Linked DNA regions of Homo sapiens. The protein of the gene in region 1 purifies or fractionates together with the protein of each later gene. This does not show direct contact. Each region holds a gene or a part of one and is shown on either strand. Other genes may lie near its edges. The genes, in order: SLC15A2, SGPP2, MMS19, STX18, OMA1, ATP2C1 and RNFT1.

Region 1 (3,891 bases):
CTAGGACAATTGTTTTTGACAGATCACAGTTAACTGATCCCCAAACTTTGTGTAGGGATTGACATTATTATCAGTTTCAGTATTTCAGACTGTGACATGCTAGCAGATCAAATTTCCAGAGAGTGAGAAGATCTGCATATGAAGCTGGCCAAGAAGACATTAGTACTTTTTCATAAATAACTTGTGTTTGATTGGAGACATAAAAAGACTGGAGCAAGCTGTGGCATCTCACAGTGATGGCTCAAGATAAATTATGTTTCTCCTTCCCCAAGACCCTTTGCTTGTTGTTGATGTTATCTCTTAACAACCCCTACAGAGACAGTGGGCTTTCTAAAGTCACTGTAGAGCCAGGTGCGGTGACTCACGCTTGTAATCTCAACACTTTGGGAGGCTGAGGCTGGTGGATCATCTGAGGTCAGGAGTTTGAGACCAGCCTGGCCAACACGGCAAAACCCCATCTCTACTAAAAATACAAAAATTAGCTGGGCATGGTGGTGGTGGGTGCCTGTAATCCCAGATACTCGGGGAGGTTGAGGCAGGAGAATCACTTTAACCCGGGAGGCAGAGGTTGCAGTGAGTCGAGATGGTGCCACAGCACTCCAGCCTGCGCGATGAGAGCGAAACTCTGTCTCAAAAAAAATAAAAATAAAAATAATTAAAGTCACTGTAGAACCTGTCATCTTATGCTAGAAATAAATATACGTGTCTGCTTTGCCACAGAGTCTTCTCTTTTGTTTTCTGCCCCTGCCTAGAGGATCTCAGGAGATATATGTATATGGAGAGAGGGTAAAGAGGTGGCTGTGAGCTACTTACATTAGTAATAACAAACAGATATGCTGCACCAAAGTCTAGAAGACCCAAATTCAGAGAAAAGTTCTTATCTTCTGTTCTACAGTGCACTGCAGGGTATCTGGAACAGGATGAATTTAGGTTAGAATAAATATCAAGGCTTGGAAAAGCATTCCCATCTCCAGGTGAAAGTGATCTCATCTCTCTACTGATGGTGAGGAAAGCAGTGAAGCCACTAATTATCTTTGAAGAGAAATGTTTCTTGGAGTAGGTTATTTTCATGCCAGGCTTCTGTCCCTGATTTGAGCTCTTTATTGCTTGTCAGGTATTTTCTAAAATATTCAACCTAAATAAAGAAGTTACAAATCATATTCTTTTGTTAACTTAAGTACCATGTGAATTTTCCTCATGCAAATCTTATGACTTAGTAGAACAGGCTATAACAGTGAACCTGAGAAGATAAGCTCTAAGTAATGAAGTGCCAGTGTAAGGTACCAAAGTACCTTCTTTAGTAGAAATGGAAACCAATAATAAACTTTGAGAAACTCACAGAGACGGACTGTGTTAACTATACAGAGATGGGCTGTGTTAACTATATAGTGTGGTCTTCACGGCAATCGTGATCTCAACATATCTGTGCAGAAAAAAAGTGAGACTGAGGGAAGGAAGCAAGAGTTGGAAAAGATCAGTAGTGCGTCTATACTCAAAATTAGACCACATGCACCTAAGTTCCCCACCTATATACAAAGATAGCACTTAAAAAACAATTATTGACAAAAGTAAAATGTCCACAGGGGCAATGCACTTACTCTCCTCTTTGCACAGTTCTATAAGCAGACACACCATAGTCTTCACCAACATTGAGAGAGGTATCTGTACTCAGGGAGATGTTGACATCTTTATGCAAAGTGTTAACAAACCTGAGGGTAGAGATATTATTTACATATCAAACAAACAGGAACACCTGATAAAAGAGGTTAGGGGCCTTTTATGTTTTGGGTATAACTATATCCCCAGTGCCCAGGTGCCTAGGATAGTGGCTGGCACATAAAAGGTACCTAATGTATATTGTTAACTAGACGAATGAACCCACACGTAAAAAGTAATCCATAGTCTTAGCTGTCCCTAAGTTTCTTTTTCTTGAACTTTTATCTGCCACATCCTCACCAGACCTCTAGCTAGACGGACACTATCATGATCATTCATGGAAATCTGAGTTTCCTCACTAATCCAGCTTAGGTGCATCTAATTTATTTCCCTTATAATGGTGGAATCTATCAACTGAGACTTTACTAAGAAAAATAAGATAATTATGCATATATAAAGATATGATAGTATTTACATAAAACTGATATCTTATCCTCTTATAAATGAAGTCCAATGTGACCTATGCAAAACTCAGACTCCCAGCCCAGAGTAGGTTATTATAATTGTTTTGGAGTCTGCAGAAACTTTGGACCCTTCCAAGACCATCTTTCTATTTTTCTGAACCTGGCACCTAGATTGTCCTCTCAGGATGGGTTTTGGTACATTTCTGTTTTGATAGCTTTTGATTTGGTCTCTGGCCCCAGGAATAAGAAGGACATTTCCCTTTAGAGTCCTGAATGTTGATTCCTAGACTTTAGATCATTCTACACTGACCTAGAAAATGCCCCTTCTGGGGGCCCATGGCTCTCTGACCTCACATTGTCTTATTTTGAGCTGTTTACTTTTTTTGAAGCATATTCAAAAGCAAGTTATTATGACTGTCCCAACCTTCAGTGAAATCCAGACTTTTCACTAAAAGTTCTCCACTAAAATGCTATTCTCAACAGCAACCACTTGACCTTGGTGGCCATAGACCTGTGTATCTGTCCATTTCATATCTAATACCAGCCACAGAGAACACATGTCCTCTTGGGTACTCCATCTCTGTAACTGTCCCTCACCATTTGACAAGACCCTTCAGCCTTATCTGGATTCAAAACTAAGTCTTTTGACTCCAAATGTGTGCTATACCATGATGCCTCTACAGGCTTATAATAAAAACTATACTTTAAAAGATATATATTCAACTATCAAAAATGAAGGGAGGATTATTTTCTCACTTCCAAATTTCTCTCTGGCGATCACAGAGAGAAAAGTACTCAGTTATTTTCCTGAGAGCAAGATAAATAGATAAAATTCAGCAGAAAGGATTTATGCCCCAGAGTACAGGGGGCATACACAGATAGAGTCATCTTCGAATCCCACATGAGAAAAGAAGCCTATCTGCCTCTCACTGTCCTAGAAAATGCCTTTTGACACCAGTGCCCCTGGCATTCTACGAGAGGGAATTCCTGTTCAGAACAAGTAGAATGCAGCCCCAAAGATTAGAAGAGATCCAAGATTCAAGAAAACAGAGTGGCCTGGAATCTCATTGACATTCAAACCTCACGGTTGTCATCCCATTGGTTGTTCTGCTTTCTGTATCCTTTACCTACAACAGAGGAAAGTAAAAATCAGTAACAGCTGATGAAATAAGACCTATACTCAGAAAATTTGATCATCAGGCAGATCCTTGGTAAGATGTTGATGAGACAGTCATATTACTTTGAGATGACAACTGAAAACACAGGCAATTCCTCAAATTACCATCATGCTGGAGATACTGTTCCCATCTTCACGAATGACAAGACTGTACCAGTTCTTCTCCTGCACAGAATGCTCAGTGTAGAGAGACAAATTGTGATATTTCAGGTGGAAGTGAAAATCCTGGCTTTTTGTTTTCAGGTGCAGTTTGGAATAGTGTGGTGTTTTCTGTAAAATGAAGAATATAAAATGAAGGTCACGTACACCTTCTACTGCATATTGGACATCACGATGTAGCATCTCAGGGTAGGTGACCTCATCAGACACTTTCAACCTAGTAATTCCTTTCTTTAACCTAGCCATTTTATTTCTTGGAATTTACCCTAAGAAATAATCAGAGCCATGCATAAATATTTATGAATAAGAATGTTCATTGTAGGATTATGTATAATAATAAAAACGGAATACCTATGTGGAAATGTCTAAATAAACTATGGTATATCTATAGAATGGAATATTATATGCCCATTAAAATCATGTGCTCAAAGATTA
Region 2 (4,488 bases), on another chromosome or scaffold:
TAAAGTCACTCAAATGAAGAAGAAAACTTCTCTATTGTTTGAAGGGTCCTAAATCAACGTCCTGGTGCTACCTTCTAGGCTATGCGGAAAAATCACTTGATTTTCAACATTCACTCATTTTTTTTTAAAGAAAAACGAAACATCGCCAGTCACAGTGACTGACGTCTATAATTTCAGCACTTTGCAAGGCTGAGGCAGAAGGATCACTTGAGGCCAAGAGTTTAAGACTAGTCTTGGCAACATAGTGAGACCCTGTCTCTACAAAAAACAACAATAACAACAACAACAACAACAACAAACCAGATGATGGCATGCATCCGTAGTCTTAGCTACACAGGAGGCTGAGGCAGGAGAACTGCAGGAGTCCAGGATGTGGAAGATGCAGTGACTTATGATTGTGCCACTGCACTCCACCCTGGGTGACACAGCAAGACCCTGTCTCTTAAAAAAAAAGTTTAAAACTATAATTTTATATTGCAATCTACATGCATGTATTCACAAAAGTCACTAGTCCCTCCTACGTGCCAGGCTATGAGAAAAAAATAAGGACCATAACAGAAAAGTTGCCTGCATTCTTAGAGTTTATCATCCTCTGGAGGGGCGGGGAATAATCAGATATCCACACAAAGGCACATTTAAACAACGTGATAAATGCTGTAATGAAGAAATGCAGAAAGCAAAGAAAAACTATAGCAGGGGGAGCTAGGCTGGAAGGTCAGAGAAGTCACCCATGGAGGAACTGACCTTTGGAAATAGAAGGATGAGTGGGGAGGATATTTAGAGAAAAGACAGGCAGCTCAGGCAGGCCAACGCCTGTACAAAGGCCTGCAGAGAGGGCAGCACACTTTTCACAACTGCCCCCTTAAAGTCCTGTAAATTGCCTGAGTGTAGATAAGAGATAATTTTTGAGGGGGGGAATCAATGTGTGTATGTAAAGGATTAATCTTCCCAAGTCATTTGAAACCAACCCACCTGTAAAAACATTAATTAACCTTTCATTTATCAAGCACTCTCAAGTTTATGATTTCCCCCATTATATACCAACACAATGATTTCTTATCTTGGGCATTCAGCTTTCTTGCTTTTACATGATCTGTAAGCAGAAGTCCTGTGTTGGCTGGGTGGGTGTGGGGAAACCGCCACAATTTCACTCACTGAAGACCCACCAGGATTGTCAAGCAGTAAGAAGATAAAACTGTGTAAGAAATCTGCTTAGCTTGCTTTTAAAGGTCAAGAGGATCCAACTGTGGAGTTTAAAGTTAAGTTACCAGGGGTGATGTTTAAAACAGTTTGAGAAGCACTGGTGGAACAATTCACTCTTTTTCAGCTTCCTGAATTAGAGAAACAGGGTAGAAGCTTGTGAAGAGAGCAACAGAAAGCAACTCACGTGTCTACCTGTGGGTGTAAACAGTGTGTGCACCGAATATGTCACGGCACGTTTCAGCCATGGGACTGTTTTTTGTTTGTTTGTTTGTTTGTTTTGGTCTTTTTTTTTTTTTTTTTTTTTTTTTGAGACGGAGTCTCGCTCAGTCGCCCTGGCTGGAGTGCAGTGGCGTGATCTTGGCTCACTGCAACCTCCGCCTCAAGCTATTCTCCTGTCTTAGCCTCCGGAGTAGCTGGAACTACAGGCCGCACCACCACGCCCAGCTGATTTCTTATCCCCCCTACTCTGCCCCGTTTTTAAGACAAGGCAAGAGAAAAAAGAGGGGTTCTCATACTCATCTATAGGTTACCGGAATGTCACATGGGATAAAGAAGGAACAATAAAGAGGAAAAAATACAGAGGAGGATTTCTCTGGAGTAGAACACACAACCACCCTCACCCTCCCAAACAAATTCTGTAATCCAATGCCTATAATATTCCATTCCACACAGAAGCCAGGTTCTTCGTAATTCCTCAGTTACTACATCTAGAAATTTACACGTAAGTAAAGGCCACCTTTCTTTCACCAAAACCTTCTAGGAAGAACAAAATGTGGCTGTGTACAAGGAATTCGAATTATTAATACGTTTATTTCTGTTCTCCTGCGCCACACTTTTGACTTTGCCGAGGGAAAAGGCAGGTGCTGCCAGTGCTCCCGGTAGACATGCGTCCCCAGAAGCCAAGTGCAGCCCGTCTGGTCCCTGCTGCCTAAAGTCCCTGTGCACTGCGACGACGACGCACGCTGGTTCCCCCCAAGCCGCAGTGGGTTGTATAACCACGCTTTGAACACCTAGCGGGAGCGTAGCGAGCTTCCCTCCCAGAAGCATCTGTTAGAAGTCACTGGTGTCGGTCCATAAAAGACCCACCAGGCAGGAGGGACCCCCAGACTCTGGGGGAGGGCAAGCGAGAGTTGCTGTTAAGACATCATCGCCGGGGGTAGTGCAGGGAGGTTGTAAATCTCTCTAGGAGCTGTGTGAGCCCCAAGTTCTGTGCCCAGAGCTGGCGGTGCAGCGCGGTGAGGAGCGCGCTGAGCCCGGCTGCACCCGCATTTGTGCGCATCAGGGAAGGGGGATGGGCGGAAATGCAAGAATACGGGGGTGGGGGGGAGTCTAAGAACGTCTCCCCGGGGAAGTGCCAAGGACATCCCCGCTCCTCCGTTCCATTACGTAACTCTTACATATTTGCTGGCATCTACGTGAATTTAACTACTTTTGAAAGTGGGAAGTCTCTAAATGGACTGCATTGAAAGCGTCTGGGGATATCTCAATAGACCCGGTTGCCCCTGGCAGCGTTGGAGGGTGGCATCCTGGTTACTGGAAGGCCAGGCCTCCCCGTCCGCTCGCAGCGGCGGGAGCCGGGTCACTGCCGGGGACGGCGCCCTCTCGGCCCGGCCGGCCCCGCGTGGCGGAGTCGCAGGGACCCGCACGTCCGCAGCCGCCCCCTCCCCGTACCCGGCGAACACCTGCCCATGGTTACCTCCGGCGCCGCGGCTCTGCGCAGCCCGTTGGCCGGAGCCTCGCCGCCCTTGCCGTTGGCTGCGGGGAGATGCTCGACCCCGGGGACCCGCGCCGCGCGCTCCGTGGGGTCCGCGCCGTTCTCCCGGGGGCCTTCATCCGGAGCGGGGAAGAGCCCGCAGCGGCGCTGGAAGCGGGCGACGAGCTGGGAATCCTGCAGGCTCCGCAGCAGCTCGGCCATGGTGTGCCCGGGGCCGCGCTCCGCCGCCGCTGCCACGCCGGGCCGGTGCCCTCCGCTGGCACCGCCACTCCCGCCTCGCCCCCGCCGATCCCGCACTCCGGGCGGAGGCCGGGCGGGCGGGGCCCCGGGCCCAGCCAACAGGTGCGCCGCCCGGGTCCTAGCGCCCGCCCAGGTGTCTGCCTCCACCTTGCGCAACGCGTCCCCCTTTCTCTCCGTCCCGGAGGGCTTGGGCGGCCCCGGGCGGCCACGGGGGCAGGACCGCCTGTAACTGGACGGAGGAGTGCCGATCTCCGAACTGCGCCTCTCTTCTCCCGGCGCCCCCAACCCCCCACCCCACCTTCTTCCCCCGGCAGACGTAACACTAATGGGAGCGGCCGAGCGCGCGTGCACCTGCGGCCGCTCCCATTAGCCCATCCTTTTGGGCTCAGGCTGATCCCACAGTGACCTTCCTTGCAACTCTGAGCCCAAGGTGAAGTCGGATTTCCTCCCACGCCAGCTCCCCACAGCCAGCCACGTACTCTCACCTTCCTGCAAGACTAGTTCCCAGTAAATACAGCGAGCCCCCCAGGGAGAATTCCCAAGTTCTTTCCAAACTGCGTGATGCAACGTCTCCCTAGAGGTCCGAACACCCTTGAGCTTGCTCAAGTACCCAGGAGGTTCAAAGTGGGCCCTGAGTCATCTTCCGCGTCGCTGCCCCTGCCCTTCTGATTTGGCAACTGGGGAACATTTTCAGGTGGGTGGGAAGGAAAGTCCCTTCTGGGTTTTCCGCATTGAGAACAAAGATGCTTACCGCTTTCTCCTACTTCTTTCTTTCCGCTCTGCCTCTCTTTAAGCAATGACACTGGGAAAACCCCACCAGACCATTTAGGGAGTTTAAACGAGAAGAGAACAAAGTGCTGGAGGACTGGGGACAGGATTAGGTATCTCATTGCACCTGCACCTGCTTTAGAGCACTCAGCAGAAGATAGCAAAGGAAACATCCTGCAGGCCGGCCTTGGTTTTCCCTCCTCCCTCCTACATTTCCCTCCTGGGCTCAGAGATCCCTTGGGAGGCAACAATCAAATTAGGCCCAGGTGATCAGTCTGCAACAAAAGTGCAATTCAACCCCGTCTTTCGTTTGCAGCAGAAACCTGCATGTTTCCTGATTGTCCATGCAAAGCCTACTAAGAATTTGGTTGCACAAATGATTAATGAACACCTGTCAATGCCTTATTTATTCAGTTGTCCTTTTAGGCCTGAATGTCTTTGGGATGTGACTTTCCAGGATGATGTAGTCCCCTTCATGCCCTAGTTTCTACTTTTCTTGCTTCTCAGTCCTGTCTGGAGAGCAAAGTCAAGGGGACTGAGAGAATGCTGAAGCTCTTAAGGGA
Region 3 (3,891 bases), on another chromosome or scaffold:
CTATGGGCAGAGGCTATATACCCTAACCTTGGCTAGACCCACCTCAGCAAATCGTGGTGTAGAAGCCAGCACAGCGCGAAGACTCAGGATGAGGTCTTCTCTCTGGATACCATGGGGATCATTAGGTGGCTGGAAAAGGGAGAAGGGCTGTGGGTTTGTGTAACATTTCAGACCACCTTGAACACAGGCTCGAACCTGGTAACCCTGCAGAACAGGGTGATACTCATACCCAATCAGGGAAGATAGTAAGATAATGAGGCCCCAGCAAGAAGACTTGCTTGATCTTAGGTACTCCTTGGGAACTTTTGTCTTTAGGCATTTTAAAAAATCTGATTACACATTTTCTATCATTTCACCACTCAGAAATAAGCATGCTTAACTTTCTGGTGTATTCCTTTCTTCGCTGATATATATTGTTACTATGTGCTAGTATATACTGTTTCCATATAAAATATATATATACTTAAAAATCATTTTGTACATGTGGTTTTTAATTTTTTTCACTTAACATATTAAGAACATTTTTATGGTATTATTCTTTCATAGCATTAGTTTTAGTGGCTATGATTTCATTTTGTGGTTGTACCAGTTTATCTAGATAATTCCTTGTTGATGGACATTTCCATTTTTTTCACCCTTATAAAAAGCTGTAATTCTGAAAACAGAAAGCCTTGATGGTTTCTGTACCAAGACGACAGACTGAAAACATATATCAGGTTTTCCTTTTCCTCTTTGCAAACTCCACCAAAAACATAGTAAAAGAAGGGATTTACTATTATTATTATTATTTTTTTTTGAGACAGAGTCTCACTCTGTCACCCATGCTGGATTGCAGTGGCTTGATCCTAGCTCAGTGCAACCTCCACCTCCTAGGTTCAAGTGATTCTCATGTCTCAACCTCCCAAGTAGCTGGGGTTACAGGCGCACCAACACACCTGGCTAATTTTTATATATTTTTTGTAGACATGGGGTTTCATCATGTTGGCCAGGCTGGTCTGGAACTCCTGACCTCGAATGATCCACCCACCTCAGCCTCCCGAAGTGCTGGGATTACAGGCGTAAGCCACCGAACCTGGCCTGGTTTCTGTTTTCATGACTGGACTTTGATAGAAAAGATAAAACTGTGGAATTCTCTTATAAAGTAACAAAAAGACAGAGGTACAAAATAGAAAACAAAAGGTCAGAAAATCAGAGGTCCAACAGAAGATTAATGAGAGTTCCAAAATGAAGGAACAGAGAAAAGAGAGAGGAAGAAATCATCAATTAAAGAATTCAAGAAAAATTTACAGGACTAATGGACACGGGTTACCAGATTGACAGGGCCTACTAAGTACCCAACACAGTACATGAAATAGACCAATACTAAGGCACATCACTGTGAAGTTTCAATGTATCGGGGTGAACCAAACATCAGTTTATAGAGAGGAAGAAAAAAATGGTAAATACAAAAGTTTATGAAACAGAAGAAATTCAGACTTCTCCACAGCAAATGAAAACTAGATAACTAGGCTTATTTATTTATTTGAGATGGAGTTTTGCTCTTGTTACACAAGCTGGAGTGCAATGGCACGATCTTGGCTCACTGCAGCCTCTGCCTCCAGGATTCAAGCGATTCTCCTGCCTGTCTCCCGAGTGGCTGGGATTACAGGCTCACGCCACCATGCCCGGCTAATTTTTTTGTATTTTTAGTAGAAATGGGGTTTCACCATGTTAGCCAGGCTGGTCTTGAACTCCTGACCTCAGGTGATCCGCCTGCCTTGGCCTTTCGAAGTGTTGAGATTACAGGCATGAGCCACCACGCCCAGCCAATAACTAGATTTAAATGTAGCAATGCCTTCAAAATCTTAGGAGAAAATAATTTCCATTTTTTTTTTGTTTTTGTTTTTGGTTTTTTGGTGACTGAGTCTGGCTCTGTCTTCCAGGCTGGAGTGCAGAGGCATGATCTTGGCTCAATGCAACCTCTGCCTCCCCAGCCCAAGCCATCCTCCCACCTCCACCTCCCGAGTAGCAGGGGCTACAGACTCGACCACCACGCCCAGTTAATTTTTGTATTTCTTATAGACAAGGTTTTGCCATGGTGCCCGGGCTGGTCTTGAACTCCTGAGCTCAAGCAATCCACCTGCCTCAGCCTCCCAAAGTAGCGGGATTACAAGCGTCAGTTACTGCACCTGGCCTCTTTCTCAGGTGCAATCATAGTGCACTACAGCCTCAAACTCCTGGCCTCAAGTGATTGTTCTGCCTCAGCCTCACAAGTAGCTGGGACTGCAGACATGTGCAACTGCATCCAGCTAGAATTCTCTTTTTATTTATTTTTTTTTTTGAGATGGAGTTTTACTCTTGTTGCCTAAGCTGGAGTGCAATGGCGTGATCTCGGCTCACTGTAACCTCCGCCTCCCAGGTTCAAGCAATTCTCCTGCCTCAGCCTCCCAAGTAGCTGAGATTACAGGCGCCTGCTACCACGCCTAGCTAATTTTTGTATTTCTAGTAGAGACGGGATTCCACCATGTTGGTCAGGCTAGTCTCGAACTCCTGACCTCAAGTGATCCACCCGCCTCGGCCTCTTAAAGTGCTTAGATTACAGGTGTGAGCCACTGCGCCCGGCCTAGAATTTCTATTCTTGAATTACATGCCCATAATGTCAAAAATGAGAGACAAGATTGAAGGCATTTAAGGGTTACAAATCTAAAAAATTCTCACTTCTTCATACATTCTCTCAGGAAAATACTAAAGGAAGTACACCATCAAACTGAGGGGGTAAACCACAAAATGAGGAATATGTGAACTCAGGAAACAGGAGATCTGATCCAAGAAAAAGGATAAGGGAATCTAGGATGACGGTGAAGGAAGAACCAATATCTACTCTGCATTAGGAGTAAAAATCAACCTGTTGACATTGTTTGGCTAAGAATGGTTTTAACATTTTTAATGTTTGAAACAAACCAAAAGAATATCTTGTGACAAGTGAAAATTATATGAAATTCAAAGTTTAGTGTTGATAACAAAAGTTCTATTGGGATATAGCTACTGTAGCTGTTCCTGTGTCTAAGGCTGTTTTTGTGCAGTAACAGCAGAGTTGAGGAGACCATATGACCCACAAAGCTACTGTCTGGCCTTTTATAGAAAAAGTTGGCCAGGCATGGTGGCTTATGCCTGTAATCCCAACACTTTGGGAAGTCGAGGCAGGTGGATGGCTTGAGCCCAGGAATTCAAGACCAGCCTGGGCAACATGGCAAAATCCTGTCTCTATAGAAAAATACAACAATTAGTCGGGAGTAGTGTCATGTGCCTATGGTTCCAGCTACTCGGGAGGCAGGGGTGGGAGGATCACCAGAGTACCAGAGTCCAGAGAGGTGGAGGCTGCAGTGAGCTGTGATGGTGCCACTACACTCCAGCCTGCCTCAAAAAAAAAAAAAAAAAAGGGAAAGAAAAAGTTTGCCAACCTCTTCTTAGAGTGAGCATATAAGCATAGTGAAGAAACTGAACCTTAAGCTCATCAGATCCACTATGATGGCACACAATACTGATTTGTGGCTGGATATGTGGCTCACACGTGTAATCCCAGCACTTTGGGAGGCCGAGGCAGGTAGATCAGTTGAGGTGAGGAGTTCGAGACCAACCTGGACAACATGGCAAAACCCCATCTCTACTAAAAAATATAAAAAAAAAATTAGTCAGGCATGGTGGCACGTACTGTAATCCCAGCTATTCAGGTGGCTGAGGCACAACAATCACTCGAACCCCGGAGGCAGGGGTTGCAGTGAGCAAGGATTGTGTTACTGCACTCCAGCCTGGGCAACAGAGTGAGACCCTGTCTGAAAAACAAAACAAAACAGAACAGAACCAACAACAATAAAAACCCTGATTTGTAAGACAATAAAGAGTATTTGTAAC
Region 4 (3,891 bases), on another chromosome or scaffold:
CACCCAGATATTTTTCTTTTGACAGCCAACACAAACCCCATTGCTTGAGAAATCTGCTCCAATTACCCTGAGATTCAAATCTTGATTCAGCTGTGATGCTGGACAGCTAACCCAAATTTGCTGAGCCCCAATATCCTAATTTAGAAAATGAAATACTAATATTTAAAGATATGGTGGCTTTTTGAGGATTAATGAAATAAAATAATATACTGCCTGGCACATGGTAAATGCTTAGTGGTAGATAATAGTACAAATTAACATTTATTAACTCACTGTAAGTGTTTTATCTGTATCTTCATTTTGTTCTCACAACAGCACTACAAGTTAGGTACTATGAGTTTTCCCATTTTATAGGTAAGGAAACAAAAGCCCAGAAAAGTTAAGCAACCTGCTCAAAGTCACACAGTTTGAAAGTGGCAGAGCCAGGATTCAAACACAGGCTGTCTGGTTGCAGAGTCTGGCTCTTAGGCATTATACTATGCCACTTGATCGTACCATTTCCCCCTCTGAGCTTACTACCGATTTCACTAATTATGACATATCCTGATTAAGCTGACTAATTTTTCATGTTTAATAGCAACCCAGCCTGCTTCTAAGCTCTCTAAGCACAAAGACTTAATCTATGGCTTCTCTCAAGCTACCCTCTCAGTGCATTATATAATAGTAGCTGTTGCTGACAGATAACTTGACTGATCTGCTTACTATCTTCCACAAATGCTTCTATTTGTTGGCATTAACAATTTCACATCTGTTTCACAAATGTGCAGAAAAGGGTTCATGTAGTAGGCCTGAGGCTGCTATCCTTAGAAAGGCCTGCTTGCAAGGTTAACCCTTGCCTGGCATCTGAGAAGTTGGACTTTGGCAGAGTTCATGCCATCCTAATTGATAAAAACAGCTCGCCGTGCCTGAACTGTTTTGCAAAACATGCGGTTTGAATGCAGTTCAGTGCTGAGCACCTGCTTTCCTCCTGGGAGTCTAGAGTTTCGGTAGATGCCAGGTGTGAGGTGCCTATGTGACCAGCCCCTAACAGAATCCTTGGGCAATGAGTTACTAATGAGCTTCCCTGGTAGACAACACTTCACGTGTTGTCATAGGTCACATGCTGTGTGACTCCACTGGGAGAGTACTCTTAGAAGCTCATGCCTGGTTTCCTCTGGACTTTTGTCCCACATGCCTTTTCCTTTGCTGTTTTGCTTCGTATCCTTTCAGTGTGACAAATCATAGCCAGGAGCAGGACTGTATGTTGAGTCCCATGAGACCTCTTAGTGAATCCTAGAACCAGAGAGTAGTGCTGGGGACCCCTGACACAGTAAGAATTTAAAAAATGTGGGCCAGACATGGTGGCTCACGCCTGTAGTCCAGCACTTTGGGAGGCAGGGGGATTGCCTGAGCCCAGGAGTTTGACAGCAGCCTGGGCAACATAGTGACATCCCACCCTTATAAAATAAAATTAAAAAATAGGCAGACATGGTAGCACATGCCTGTAATCCCAGCTACTCGGAAGGCTAAAGTGGGAGGATTGTTTGAGCCCAGGAGGTCGTGCCACTGCACTCCATCCTGGGAGACAGGGTGAGACCCTGTCTCAAAAACAAAAAAAACAAAAAAAAACAAAAAAGAAAATGTGTCCCCAAACAGTTATGTGATGTTATCTTCTGAAAGAACATCCTAAAACCTTTCTAAAGCTAGTCTAGAAATGGTCCAGGTTTGGATACTTGCTCACTGATGTATTCCATCTCCAAGACTGGCTGAGTTGCAGCGGGAACGACTGTGAGGACACAGCTCTTGCATTCCAGATGCTCATGTGAGCCCAGAGGGGAAACCAGGCAGGCGCCATGGAAAATACAGGAGCCTGGCCCTCCTGCTTCCTGTGGCCTTGGATGAGTCATTTACCCTGCTGGAGCGTCAGCGTCCTTACCTGCTGACAGGGCTCCTAATAGTGCCTGCATGGGACAGGTAGTGGGGTTGGAGGGAGGTGTGCACTCAGAGCATGTGGCATCGAGCAAGTCTGTCACAGGTGACCTGAGGACAGCCTTGTGGTGGCCTGCTTGTTGTGCCCTCGCTCTTCTCTCAGGAATACACTTTCAGGGACGACAAGAAGGGGTATGGGGGTCAAAGAGATTGAGGTAAAATGGCTCAAGATGTGCCAGCCTCATCGGGTTAAGAGACAAAATGGGCAAGAGCACAGATTTTGGACCAACAGCCTAGGCTCAAACCCCAGCTATGCTACCTGTGGGACTGTGGGATCTAGGGTGAGTGGCCAAGCCTCCTGAGCCTCAACTTCCTCATTTGTAAAATGAGGGAGGAAACAGTACCTGCCTCATGGGGGTTTGTTGTGGGCCAATAAAGTGGCTGGCATGCTGCCTGGCACACAGTGAGTGCCCGGTAGCGCCAGCTATGGCATTTTGCGAAGAAGTTCAAACACGGTACATTGCATAGGGTAAGTGCTCTACAAACTTTAACTGCTATTATTAGTAGTACTATTATTAATTAAGAAACACCAATGAAAGCAATACTTACAATCTTTTCTTATCCACCACTCTTTTAACTCGGATGGCTCTCTGTTCTGAGTAAAGTTTACATACTCCTGTTGCAGAAGAAAATACCAGAAGAGAGACTGCTTAAAACAGCTTCTCAGGCAAAGCCATCATTAAATATAATGAGATACTACAGTCTTCAGCTAGCAAAGCTAAATTCTGCATCACATCTATTGTGAAATGTTACATTTGACCTTTAAAAGAAAATGAAATACTTTTCAAGTAATCTTCAATGAAATCCAAAACAGCGGTCCTGTGCTCCTTCACTTGCTGGGAATGTATCTCCTTGTGAGCTGTAACAGAAAAAGACAATGTTCAGGCCTTCGCACTCAATTATCCTAAAGAGCAATTCATCAGCTTCCTCACAACACTTTCTTTATTGAGAGTATTTTTTAAAACACAGCTATAAAACAAGTCTTGTGCCAAGTGACACTACATTTTTAAAACAGTAAGATGTATCAGGCTTCGCAAGAGTGAAAGATTAAACCTGTAGAAAATCTATAGTCAAATAATTTATGGTTTATCAGAACACTTAAGGATAGTATTTGACGCAGCCACTTCTTGAGTGCTGACCCCATCTGTGTTAACAGCATCCAATGCTCAAGCTGACCTTCAGCGAACATGTTTAAACAACTGAAATCACACACTCCTCCCTGCTTGAACCTGTGCTGCTTTTCAGCCTGTAGTGCCCCATCCTCTCCCCTTGGCCACTCACATTCTAAGGGTCCCTTAGACAATGAGTCAAACTTTCTGTCTCCAGGAAACCTATGACTCCTAGCCACAAAGATGCCTTTCTCCTGGGAACTACCACACAGAAGTGTGCTAAAAGGCCTTACCAGACCTAAAGTCTGTGCCACTGGTTTTGGTAAGATAGTGACCACTGACTGAGAGACTGAGTGCCTACTGCGTGCAGGTACTCTGCTAGCACTTTACATATGTACTGCTAGTAATTACAATAGCAATTCCGAGTTTCCTGATTTTTACACGTGAAGAAACTAAGGTTCAGAGGCAATAAATAGCCCAAGGTTAGATGGTTTCATATGTAAATGTAGGTTTTGTTAAATATTCCTGTGCATTTTTTAGGTCTCTCAATGAATGTATATGCCCTTAAGGGTAGAGGGCATGATTTCTGCCTTACTATAGGGCTGCTTAACCCAAGATTTGTGTGGGGGACTCAGGAGCTCTGTGAAATTGCATATAGAATTTTGTGTATGTACATTTTTCTGGCAAGAATGCCTATTGCTTCCATCAGAGTCTCCAAGTGGTCCGTCAGCATTCTAATAAAAACCTCCCCAACAAAAGTCTGTGTTGTGAGCACAACAGCATCTGGCAGCTTTGAACTCTACTTACTATTTAA
Region 5 (3,891 bases), on another chromosome or scaffold:
ACCTAGTAAGACTTTCCTTTCAGCATTTTCAAAGCAATGATATTTTAACAGAGTGAAAAGCAAGGAAGGATGGCAAAGTAGCTTTAGCCAATTCTGTGCCCATTAAAGTTCAGAGGTTTTAACAGTGCCGCATTAAAACCCAAATACAGTTGGCTCTCTATATCTGTGGATTATGCACCTGGTAGATTCAACCAATTTGGATAGAAAATATCTACGAAAAAACAATTTAAAAAACTACAACTTAAAAATATATATAGTAAAATAACTATTTACATAGCATTTACATTGAATTACAAGTAATCTAGAGATGATTTAAAGTATATGAGAGGATGTGCATAGTTACATGCAAACACCATGCTTTTATTTTTATTTTTATTTTTTTTTGAGATGTAGTCTCACTCTGTCGCCCAGGCTGGAGTGCAGTGGCGCAATCTCGGCTCACAGCAAGCTCTGCCTCCTGGGTTCACGCCATTCTCCTGCCTCAGCCTCCCAAGTAGCTGAGACTACAGGCGCCCGCCACAACGCCAGGCTAATTTTTTTGTATTTTTAGTAGAGACAGGGTTTCACCACGTTAGCCAGGATGGTCTCAATCTCCTGACTTCGTGATCCACCCACCTTGGCCTCCCAAAGTGCTGAGATTACAGGCATGAGCCACGGCGCCCGGCCAATACCATGCCATTTTTTATCAAGGACTTGAGCATACTCAGATTTTGGTATCCACAAGAAGTCCTGTATACCAAGGGACAGCTGAATTTGGGAGTCATTCAGTTACTACGAAAGGAAGGGTCAGTGGCTGGGTTTTCTCTCTGTAAAACCAATAAATATATTTTCAAAAATTTTATTAGCCAAAAGTTGCCAAGCCCTTCTAACTCTCCATACCCATCATTTGAGAGATGTAGTATTCCTTAATTTAAATATTCATATATAAGAATATCCCCTAAAAACGAGAAAACATAAGACACTAAAAATTCGTACCCATATTTCATAGTAAAATGTAAAAACATCTCTGGATTTGCTGCTTTACAGTAGTATTAAAATATCTTCACCAGAGGCTATGATCAATTCAAGTTATTGTCTCAGACTTACCTCCTGCAATTTAGACTGTATCCACTGGCACAAAAGTGCCAAGCTATCTCGAGGACAAATGGCCCAAATCATTGTGAGGAAAATCATACCTAGGAAATCCAACAAATGAACCATGCCAGCCTTTTCTGCCTAAGAATAATCAAAATAATAAAAACTACATTTTATACATTGAGACAGTATATGCTTACATTTTCTAGTTCATCATGTGTTACAATTACCTGACCTTCTCCACCTAAGACTGAGAGTTCTCTTTTTCTTCTTTTGCTTATTCTTTCCGGGTCTGTTTTTCCCTTCCTTGGTTTATCTACTTATATACCTATTCATTCATTTAACTAGTATCTACTAAGCCACTTACTATTAGTCAGAGGATATAAACCTACAATTTCTTATATTAACAGGCATAATAATCTTGTGAAATAGCTACAATTATCCCTACATTTATAGATAATGAAACTGAGATAGAGAGAGGTTAAGAGTTGCCCAGATTTGCACAGCTATTACTAAAAGGACCAGAAATCAAACCCGGTCAGTTTTAGTTTTTAATATAGTTGCATCATTTTAAAAAATCAAGTAAATGTTTTATTTTACTAATATTTTTGGATAAAGACTAAACACTACCTAACATATGAAGCACTTAAAACAAGAAAAAATTCAGAAAAAGACTGGAAGTTTATTTTAAATAAAAGTATTCTGATCTTCAAGACCTAATATATGAAATATTATTCATTTATACAAGTTTGTAAATTTGTAAGTCTAGTATTTATCATGAAAGAATCAGGTTCTATGAATTTTTGTATTTACTTATATCAGTTACCAAAAAAGATTTTTCATAAAATAGTTGTTTTGAGTAGTAATATCTAAGTTTAATGAACTAGATTGTTCATGGTTTGCCATTAAAGGTGATTAGTAAATGTTAATGTTGTAATGCTGAAACTGATAAAATAGCAGTCATTACTTGAATGTATGAAAAATGACTGAAAACTAAAAACTGACTTAGAATATTGTCCCTTAACAAATATTGTACCCTCACAAAACATACTTTACCTCCTTATATTTGCCTCATTACTTTGCCTCAAAACACAAATGTGTGTTTTGAAAAACAATTATGGATTTATCTTTTTTTTTTTGAGACAGAGTCTTGCCCTGTTGCCCAAGCTGGAGTGCAGTGGCGAGGTCTCGACTCACTGCAACCTCCGCCTCCAGGTTCAAATGTTTCTCCTGCCTCAGCCTCCCGAGTACCTGTGATTACAGGTACCCACCACCATGCTCAGCTATTTTTTGTATTTTTAGCAGAGATGGAGTTTCACCATGTTGGCCAGGCTGGTCTTGAACTCCTGACCTCATGATCCACCCACCTCAGCCTCCCAAAGTGCTGGGATTACAGGGGTGAGCCACTGTGCCCAGCCCAATTATGAAATTATTTTAACATGAAAAAGTGAAACTCAAAATAAGGAAGTTGTTATAGAAGAGAAAGCCCTTGTTATTAAAGAATATAATTGCTATTATACAGTCTTAGAAAACTGGAAATACACACACAAAAACCTGTATTTGTAGAATAAAGAAAACATAAACGCCTAGATAAAATCAAAACTGAGACTCCCAAAAGAGAAAATATTGTGCTGACAATGTTTAAGATCTCTGCAAAAACATATTAATAACTATGTTCTATTTTTAAGGCTGCTGTTTGCTTTTTACACCTCATCTACTACTGTTCTTGCACTGATAGAGATGACAATACACTGAATATAAGGCACTGAACTAGATGCCTAAAAAACAAATGTACTGAATAGTAACACCTTTCAAATGCTAAAATGGCCAAAACTGATTTTGCAGTTGTGAAGCCATTACTTGAAAGATATTAGAGTGCATATAATAACACTGCTTAGACGTATTCTTGTGTATATTTGTTTAAGAAAAAAAGATTTTTTTTCTTACTTTTTTGTTTGAGACAGTGTCTCACTCTGTCACCCAGGCTAGAGTGCAGTGGTGCGATCATGGCTCACTGTAGCCTTGATCTCCCAGGCTCAAGCAATCCTCCTGCCTCAGGCTCCAGAACAGCTGGAACTACAGGTGTGAGCCACCATGCTCAGCTAATTTTTAAAATTTTTCTGTACAGACTGAGTCTATGTTGCCGAGGCCAGTCTCAAACTCCTGGGCTCAAGCAATACTCCTGCCTCAGCCTCTCAAAGTGCTGGGATTACAGGTATAAGCCACTGCACCCAGTCAAGAAAAATGTTTTTAAAATCTTCCTGTAACTCAAAAGAAATCAAGGAGATAATTACTTTCAGTGTTTCAGAAAAACAATTTAGCCCATCTCATCTTATTAATAGTCTAAGGAACAGGTAGAATTTGAGATTACTCTTAGAAGGATTAGAATCATTATCATTTCCATTTGAAGTTAATGTTACTTGTATTTCTGATTTAGCATTTCAGTCACTTCACTATGTACCTTTGCGTTTACAATTTAAAAAATACTTTCTCTAATGTAGACAAAAGAGCCATTTATATTTTTAAATGAATAACAATTTAAAAAATGTGTGAAACAGATGTGTTATTTTTCCTGGACTTATATCAAGATGAACAGACATGTATTCACAGGAGCATACATCAACTTGAATTCTATGATCTATAAGAAAAGCGCTGCTAAAAACCAGGTAACTGTAGTGAAAGGAAGAAACACTGGACTAACATACAGAAGACCCACGTTAAAGTCCCAGTTCGGTTACTTTGTCAGGTTAGTCATGTTACTGTTTTTCTAAACATTAGTTTTCTCTTATATAAAATAGTAATAATAAATACATACCT
Region 6 (3,891 bases), 9.0 Mb from region 1:
GATCAACCCACACATGACAAAGCATTCGGTTTCCCTAATAATGAACTGTGAAATCAAATAATGAGAACTCTTTTATTTACAGTTGAAGTTAATGACAATACTTAAAGCTGGCCAAAAATTTAAAAGTTACATGGATCCCCTTTGACTAAATAATTTTATTTCTAAGAATTTTTCCTTAAAAAAGAGAGGTATTTACCAGAAGACACCACACTAAAGAAGTATTTATATGACCAAAAAAAAACCCTCAAAAAATCCTAAATGTCTAGAAGAGGTCTTCTTATATGTTTTCCCACAAAATAGAAAACTATACAACCTTTATGTTTGTTTTATGTGACCATCAATTTAATGACAAGAGTTTTATGACAGGATATGTGAAATAAAAATAGAAAAGCAGTCCATAAAACTATCGTATTACATTCTTGTTGAAGACTAGAAAGACAAATACTAAAATGTTTCAAGAAATATTTTCTGATTACAAGAATCAGAGTTCTATTTTTTCTTTGTTGAAATGAACAATGGCTACTAGTAGTCTTATAATTTTAAAAAGTATTAAACTTAATAAAAAAAAGAAAAGCCAATAAATAAAACTAGAATACCACCACCCTTCACATTCAAAAAACAAAACTCAAATAAAAATATATACATACTCACTCTTCTCTTACCTATTATACCAAAGGAGTAAAAGGAAAGTTGTTTTCCTAAGAGGTCCATGCTCTTCTGCAGAGGGGTTTTTGGTGCCTTGATAAATTGAAGAAGAGTGTCACCACAATTAGCTATATTTACTAAGCTTTATCAAGTGCCAGGGGCTTGCTAAGTGCTTGACAAAGCAATTCCTAAGTTAACCATACAACTCTCCCATAAGGTAAATAATCACCTTCACTGAGAAAACTGAGACTTAGATTTTACACAATGCCCAAGGTCACACAGTGAGGAACAGAAATTCTCTATTTTTAAAAACCTGTTTATTATTTGAAAAGGTCCGTTCTCTCTATGCTTCCTTTTGAGGAAAAATCTGTTCTCCCTCCTACCAACCACTGCAGGACTTCATTACCATCAGCTGCTCTCTCACTTGCTTTTCCAATTTTTCCCTTTTGGTATCCACAAACATGCTAGTAACCCAGGTCTTTTAATCCTCCCTCAACTGCTAACCCTCTTCTCTATTCATCCCTTCACTGCCACGCCTCTTGGAATGAGTTCCCACTTTGCATCGCATACTGGAGTTTTGGCAGGTTACCTGAGAAATCCAGAGGATTTGGGGAGAACACGACATTTGCAGAATGAAGCTTCTTTTTATAATAAGAAAGTATTTAAAATGAACTCATCTTTAATACTTTTAGCCGAGAATATCTTGTAGGTTATTTTACTTGGCAATCTTTTCCCTGCCACCCTTACTTGGAATTATGTGAAGTTGAAAAAATTTGATAGAAGACATATTCCAAGGTACAAATATACTAATTACTAATCCTTAAAATTACCACAACACTAATTTCTGAAAATAATAAGATCTACAAATAAGTGGCTATAAGCCTTTTTCTGCTATAAACAATGAGTAAAGCTCAAAATCCTTTAGAATACTAACAACATCAATTTAGACCTTTTCAATTACAGGCTTTCCAATTATGTTTCTAAACAGAGACAACTGATTTCCATTCTGAATAAAATATTGCTCTCAATAGTATATAAAATAATCCAACATTCTCTACTTACAATGAAGAATTTCAGATTTGGAACAAATACATCATTAACATATTAAGTACTCACCTCTTCTGCTTGCATCATTTTAAAAACCTCCCCAAATTCAGAATTTTCTCCTGTTCCAATGACAACACCCTAAGGGGAAAAACAGGAAAATACATTTACATCCAGATGAAATGTAAACCAAAACACATACACACACACATCCAACAACTTTCAAAGTCTTACCTACAGTGAAGATGTCTAACATACACACTCCTAAGATTTCCTCAGCAAATTTACTTTTTTATGTTCCTGTCATTAGCATTTGCCCCTTATGATTTAAACTCTGGAAACAAACATTACATTAAACGTATTGCTGGCCGGGTGCTGTGGCTCACGCCTATAATGCCAGTACTTTGGGTGGCCGAGGCGGGTGGATCACTTGAGGTCAGGAGTTCGAGATCAGCCTGGCCCACATGGTGAAATGCCATCTCTACTAAAAATACAAAAAATTAGCCAGGCATGGTGGGACATGCCTGTAATCCCTACTACACAGGAGGCTGAGGCAGGAGAATCACTTGAACCTGGAAGGTGAAGGTTGTAGTGAGCCAAGATCACGCCACTGCACTCCAGCCTGGACGACAAAGTGAGACTCCGTCTCAAAAAAAAACGTATAGCAGACTCAATTCTGAGGCCTATTTTTTGCCTATATTAGTATTTCTGAAATACAAACATGTATTATACTCAATAGGAGACATTTAATATAGTTTCTTTTTACCCCTAGTGAATGGTGTCTTTTGCACTGGTGGAGTATCAGAATTCAGGAAAGGAAGCATTTGAAATCGATCAACAGGTGAACAACATATAGTCAGATTATTATAGCCAGTATCATATTAACTAAATTAAAATTTATTTAATAATAAACACATCCATGAAAACACTGTTTCTCTCTTTAAAAAGAAACAGGTATTGAGGATTATCCATTATCTGGGAAATAGCAGAACTACGGAAATATTATACTTTGGGGACACAGATTCTCCCCAGTTTCACAAATAGATGTAATGGGTTAAGTTCAATTTTATCCTTTGTCATGTATTTGAAAAATTCCACATAAAATCAGCAAAAAATAATTGAGAAAATAGTTTCAAACAAAGGAACTGCTTTTTTCAAATCAGGAAAAAAATTTACCTTTGCTTTGCCACATCTGACCAGTGTTCCCATAAAGGCAATGTTACTTCTCGATGCAAGATCTCCATTAGTTGCAGCTGGCTGAGGAGCTGTCACCTTAGAACAAGGCGTTGTCTCACCTGTCAAGCTGGACTCATCAATGGAAAGATCCACAGCCTTAGGGAACATAAAGAATCCCAGATTCAAATTTTGTGCTACATTTAACATCTCTAGAGTTCATAACCATCATCACTTCTTCCTCAAACATCCCTTTTCCATTGATTAGCCACATCTTGTATCAAAACCATCACTCTAAAAGACCAGAATCAGTACAATCATATTTTAAAATACAATTAAGTCAACAAAATCTAAGACATGCAAAGTAGAATGCTGTACCATGAGACTAGATTAGCCTAAAATTGAAAATACAACTAGGAAAAATTTGACACTAGCTAAGACTCAATCTTCATCTAGAGAAAACTCAACTTTTCATGACAAAATATTATTTCCTAATTTTGTCAAGTACCTAAAGTTCTGGAAATATGGCTTGGCAGATTAAAACCATCGACGATGACTGAAAGTGATAAATGAATAAAGGGGAAAAATGTTACTTAGAAATCATTTCATCATTTTGGAATCAATTTTCATAAAATCATTATTGTTATACATGCCGTTTATTCCAAATTACAATTTGCAAGACTCAAAAATGTATACAAATGCTTTCATGCAGATCATAACTATCATAATATCTTCCAACTCTGCAACAGGGCTCAGTTTTGAAGGCTTCACTCCTGACACAGTATTTACCTACCCAAGCATACAGAAAAAAGAAAAAAAAAACAATTTTATGAGTATAGATACATACACACATACATACATATATACATACATACATACATACATACATACATACATACATACGAACAAGTGAGGGAGAGGACTAGGGCCAAGTAAGTCAGAAATAGTTAAGAGTTAAACAGCTTCCTCTACTGCAGTGCTCTCAAAACCTTCAATACATTAACATGAATCACCTCAACAGGAATACAG
Region 7 (3,891 bases), on another chromosome or scaffold:
TATCAATTCACTAGGACCAGACATATTGGGATGTGACCCAGTAATCTATTATTTGAAAGGTCTCCAAGTGAGTGCAATATGAAGAAGACTTAGGGACCACTGAAGAATTTTCTGCCACTAGGTCTAAAAATTATTCGAAATTATAAAAAGCATTTAGTGCTAAACATAAAAAAGTTTTACGGAGAAACTGCAACTGTAAATGTCGCTTTGGTAGAATAACTACTGTCAAAACTAACTGAACAAAAATGCAATTATTTGAATTTTCTTCTCTTCTAATGTCCTAATAACAAGTTACTCGTCTCTAAGATTTTAACCTCCTCACCAGATTCAGAACTTAGTCATTAACTAGATGTGATGTCAATAACCCTCAGTGAAATTTGGAGAAATCAAAATGTTACAAATGAAACCTGCTTTCTGTAGAAATGATGGGGAAGAGGTAACTAAAGAGATGTAAGAACACCCAAGTCAGTCACGGTCATGAGGGTAAAGCATGACTTAACATAGCTGAAGTTATCTAAACTTCTTGTACTAAAACGTCTCAGGCTAACAACATCAAAATCAAAGTAAAACTCAAAGGATAAAGATATTAAAAATTGAGGTTTTTTGAAACTGGTAATAAAGATTTCAGAAATAAGTCAGGATACTGTTAGATGATCTTGGTGTCAATTTCCCTTCAGTAAGGTGTCATTTAGCAAAGTACATTTGCAGATAATTATGCTGACAAGCTTTTAAGACGTTACTCATCTGGCATCTTGGAGACTCCCTCTCCAGATAGTAACTGCCATTTCCCTGGTAAAGGAGACTTGAACAAATCCAAGTATTGATGACTGATATCCTCTCTGTAGTTTGTCTCAGAGAAAGAATATCAGGGTATTTTCTTGAGAGTATTTCGGCACAAATCTTACAAGACCAATTATAGTAAAATGGTTGATGCTCACATAATCATCAGTTGAACTGACTTGGACAAAGCTGAACTCTCTGAATTTTATTATGTCTTGTCTAGAGAAACAAGCTTGCATAGGATGTAGCAAAGTTTGTTTCTACATTGCTAACTCTATCTTAGGGAAAAGGCCCTGGCCAGTTAGTCTCGTTTACTTTGTAGACATAATTCTTTTTTTATTTTTACGGTATATTATTCGGTTGGCATTCTTTTAAGTCAGTCTCCTTGGGCCCTGATGAAATGACTGCAAAATTGAGAATCAAACCCTGAAGTCTGCTGACCACACATAGGTACTAGGAACCTTTCAGGCTACTAAGTGGTAAATTAGGGTTCTCTATGACATCCTTTCACTGCAATTTGCAACATCAATAGAATCACACAATAATGTTATAAATGACACCAGAGACTCAATTAATTGTTAAATTTCATGCCATGAACGTATTTATGCACATATAATTGAGCAATGGGGAAATCTGCTCCAGTAAGAAAACTGCAAGAGACATGATTTTTGGCAGTGAGCTTTCTAAACAATAAATTACAATGGAAGGATTTTCACAGGTGAATAAGGAGTTAATAGGAACAAACAAAGCCCCCATTTGTGGATTAAAAAAGAGGAACACAATTTCATAAGATTGTTAAGGGTTTACAAGCCTTAAAAATGTCCAGTGGATTGAAGAGGCAAGAGACAAGTTCAAATATATAAGCACTGCAACAATTAGCAGGTGGTTGTCAATGTGTGATTCAAGAATCTGATCACAGAGATAAAACTCCTAAATTATTATAGCCCCAAGTGCCAAAGTACTAGAAAATAATCAAAGTAAAAGAAAAGGATCATCTATTTATGAAATCCATTCTTGTAAAACTGCTGAACTAAAAAAATTTTTGCAGTGAAGAAAGGTGAAGGTGTTTTTCTTAACTGATAAAAAGTACTTACTGGTTGTGTAAAAAATATTCGTAAAACCTGTCTGAAAGTTCTCAGATGCCCAAAAAATTCCAAAAGCTGAAAAGAGAAATAAGAGATCATTTATTAATTCAAACAGTCCTATTTGCTAAACCCAAAAACCAAAGCTGAAATCCCATAACATCAAATCCTCATATTAACTTAATGTTCATTATATGTCACATCTAATCATTTTGTGCTGAGTATTTTATTCAATTTATAGATTTGAGCCATCTCAGCAAGCTGAAGTACATTTAAACACCTAGAGTAACAATTTGATCAAGACAAATACAACTATGTCAAAGTCAAAGCAATTTTATCTGATTCACCTGTTTTTAACATTTAGATTTTAAAGTTTCATAAAGTGATTATTAGGTTGAGGGGTGCAGGCATGGAGAGAACAGGACAAGATACTCTACTAGTTTAAGAATTATGTGTATGACAATGTTACTGTTGAGGATGGGTATGTTCTATTCCACTTGTTTTCCCTACTTAGATAATCCACGCTATGTGAAGGTCGACTCCCCTTCCCTCCAGTGAAACCTGAGGACCGCTGGATTAAGATAGTCTATTTCCGTTTCTCCATTTCTAAACAAATATAGAACCTGCTATTACTTCAAACTAGTGATATGAAGATAAACTATAAAACTGTTAAAAGAGGAAAACAGTAGTATGTATCAGTAATCATTAATGTGAATCATGCAGTGACAAGATTTGTAATGTTACCTACTTTTAATATGAGGTAGAGTAAAGCCAGCAGTATCCCAAGACTCCATCTAGTTACGTTACCAAACTCCCCATAGCTTATAAGGTAGCGAAACCAAACTGGTATGGGAACAAAAGTTCGGTAGTATTGACACAATTCTTCTAAAAGCATATACCAGTAACCCTAAAAAATAAGAAGAAAACAAATAGAGCTACCCAAACTACTTAACTACATAGCACAAACAATATTAGACTGAGAACACTGAGTATATTATACAATAATATAAATAACTATAAAATTAATCTTCATAATGATTATGACTGAACCTCAAGCTGGTTCTCACATATTACAGTCACTGAGTGGCCTGCTTTGAAAGAATTTCTAGGTTGGACGCAGTGGCTCCCAGCACTTTGGGATGGGCAGATCACCTGAGGTCAGGAGTTCGAGACCAGCTGGCCAACATGGTGAAACCCCGTCTCTACTAAAAATACAAAAATTAACTGGGTGTGGTGGTGGGCACCTGTAATCCCAGCTACTCAGGAGGCTGAGGCAGGAGAACTGCCTGAACCCAGGAGGCGGAGGTTGCAGTGAGCCAAGATCACACCACTGCACTCCAGCCTGGGCAACAGAGCGAGAGACAATCTCAAAACAAAACAAAACCAAAAAAAAAGATACAATGAGAATGTTTTATGTATACTGCAAGTAAAACCTATGTGAGTATGTTTTTGCTGATTATAAGAATTTAAAAGTTTTTAGTGCATATGGGAAACCACTGAATAATTGTACATAGTCAACTGTCAATTGATAATGCCCTGGAGAACAGAAGTACACATCTAAATAGTTTCCCACATATGATGTGGGGACTGATTTTAAAATTATTCTGAAGCAAATATAATTCTGATTTTATCCAAATAGGTTAATAATCAGGTTCAAGTGCCTGAACAAATGGTTGCTAAGCTGAAATAATACAGATAATTAAGCTAGTTAGCAAACTGAAAAACTGCAAAAGGAGGATTCATTTAAACAAAGACTAAATAGCATTAATGTGATTCGATAACATCACTCCAATAAAGCATAAGTGAGTTTCTTACCTTAGATTTAAAAGGCATGATGAAAGAAGGCACCAATAAAATAAGGCATTTTAAGCCCATGAAAAAGAATTTCAGAATGAAGTCTGTAATTCCAACAATCCAAAATACTTCCCAGAAGCTCAAATGGTCCAAAGTAGGATTTAAAAAAATTAAGCTACCAAAAGAAAAACATCAAAATTTATCAGAGCAACATACAAAGATAAAGTATTAATAA

What was found.
Region 2: the proteins of SLC15A2 (region 1) and SGPP2 purify together in Homo sapiens (affinity purification with mass spectrometry; one large-scale study listed by BioGRID and IntAct). This does not show direct contact.
Region 3: the proteins of SLC15A2 (region 1) and MMS19 purify together in Homo sapiens (affinity purification with mass spectrometry; one large-scale study listed by BioGRID and IntAct). This does not show direct contact.
Region 4: the proteins of SLC15A2 (region 1) and STX18 purify together in Homo sapiens (affinity purification with mass spectrometry; one large-scale study listed by BioGRID and IntAct). This does not show direct contact.
Region 5: the proteins of SLC15A2 (region 1) and OMA1 purify together in Homo sapiens (affinity purification with mass spectrometry; one large-scale study listed by BioGRID and IntAct). This does not show direct contact.
Region 6: the proteins of SLC15A2 (region 1) and ATP2C1 purify together in Homo sapiens (affinity purification with mass spectrometry; one large-scale study listed by BioGRID and IntAct). This does not show direct contact.
Region 7: the proteins of SLC15A2 (region 1) and RNFT1 purify together in Homo sapiens (affinity purification with mass spectrometry; one large-scale study listed by BioGRID and IntAct). This does not show direct contact.

The regions. Positions count from the first base shown.
Region 1 is NC_000003.12:121,928,658-121,932,548, reverse strand, and holds part of SLC15A2 (solute carrier family 15 member 2), read right to left. Parts: intron 3,568-3,891; coding exon 3,403-3,567; intron 3,248-3,402; coding exon 3,201-3,247; intron 1,710-3,200; coding exon 1,599-1,709; intron 1,424-1,598; coding exon of another isoform or gene 1,378-1,423; exon of another isoform or gene 917-1,377; intron 911-916; coding exon 814-910; intron 1-813. UniProt on the Homo sapiens protein: Proton-coupled amino-acid transporter that transports oligopeptides of 2 to 4 amino acids with a preference for dipeptides. Transports neutral and anionic dipeptides with a proton to peptide stoichiometry of 2:1 or 3:1.
Region 2 is NC_000002.12:222,423,233-222,427,720, reverse strand, and holds the start of SGPP2 (sphingosine-1-phosphate phosphatase 2), read right to left. Parts: upstream 3,179-4,488; 5' UTR 3,119-3,178; coding exon 2,900-3,118; intron 1-2,899. UniProt on the Homo sapiens protein: Has specific phosphohydrolase activity towards sphingoid base 1-phosphates. Has high phosphohydrolase activity against dihydrosphingosine-1-phosphate and sphingosine-1-phosphate (S1P) in vitro.
Region 3 is NC_000010.11:97,470,733-97,474,623, forward strand, and holds part of MMS19 (MMS19 nucleotide excision repair protein homolog), read right to left. Parts: intron 130-3,891; coding exon 43-129; intron 1-42. UniProt on the Homo sapiens protein: Key component of the cytosolic iron-sulfur protein assembly (CIA) complex, a multiprotein complex that mediates the incorporation of iron-sulfur cluster into apoproteins specifically involved in DNA metabolism and genomic integrity.
Region 4 is NC_000004.12:4,454,674-4,458,564, forward strand, and holds part of STX18 (syntaxin-18), read right to left. Parts: intron 2,828-3,891; coding exon 2,750-2,827; intron 2,585-2,749; coding exon 2,518-2,584; intron 1-2,517. UniProt on the Homo sapiens protein: Syntaxin that may be involved in targeting and fusion of Golgi-derived retrograde transport vesicles with the ER.
Region 5 is NC_000001.11:58,529,515-58,533,405, forward strand, and holds part of OMA1 (metalloendopeptidase OMA1, mitochondrial precursor), read right to left. Parts: intron 1,216-3,891; coding exon 1,087-1,215; intron 1-1,086. UniProt on the Homo sapiens protein: Metalloprotease that is part of the quality control system in the inner membrane of mitochondria. Activated in response to various mitochondrial stress, leading to the proteolytic cleavage of target proteins, such as OPA1, UQCC3 and DELE1.
Region 6 is NC_000003.12:130,952,951-130,956,841, reverse strand, and holds part of ATP2C1 (calcium-transporting ATPase type 2C member 1), read right to left. Parts: intron 3,022-3,891; coding exon 2,866-3,021; intron 1,831-2,865; coding exon 1,762-1,830; intron 739-1,761; coding exon 663-738; intron 1-662. UniProt on the Homo sapiens protein: ATP-driven pump that supplies the Golgi apparatus with Ca(2+) and Mn(2+) ions, both essential cofactors for processing and trafficking of newly synthesized proteins in the secretory pathway.
Region 7 is NC_000017.11:59,954,614-59,958,504, forward strand, and holds part of RNFT1 (E3 ubiquitin-protein ligase RNFT1), read right to left. Parts: intron 3,832-3,891; coding exon 3,678-3,831; intron 2,770-3,677; coding exon 2,611-2,769; intron 1,941-2,610; coding exon 1,875-1,940; intron 1-1,874. UniProt on the Homo sapiens protein: E3 ubiquitin-protein ligase that acts in the endoplasmic reticulum (ER)-associated degradation (ERAD) pathway, which targets misfolded proteins that accumulate in the endoplasmic reticulum (ER) for ubiquitination and subsequent proteasome-mediated degradation.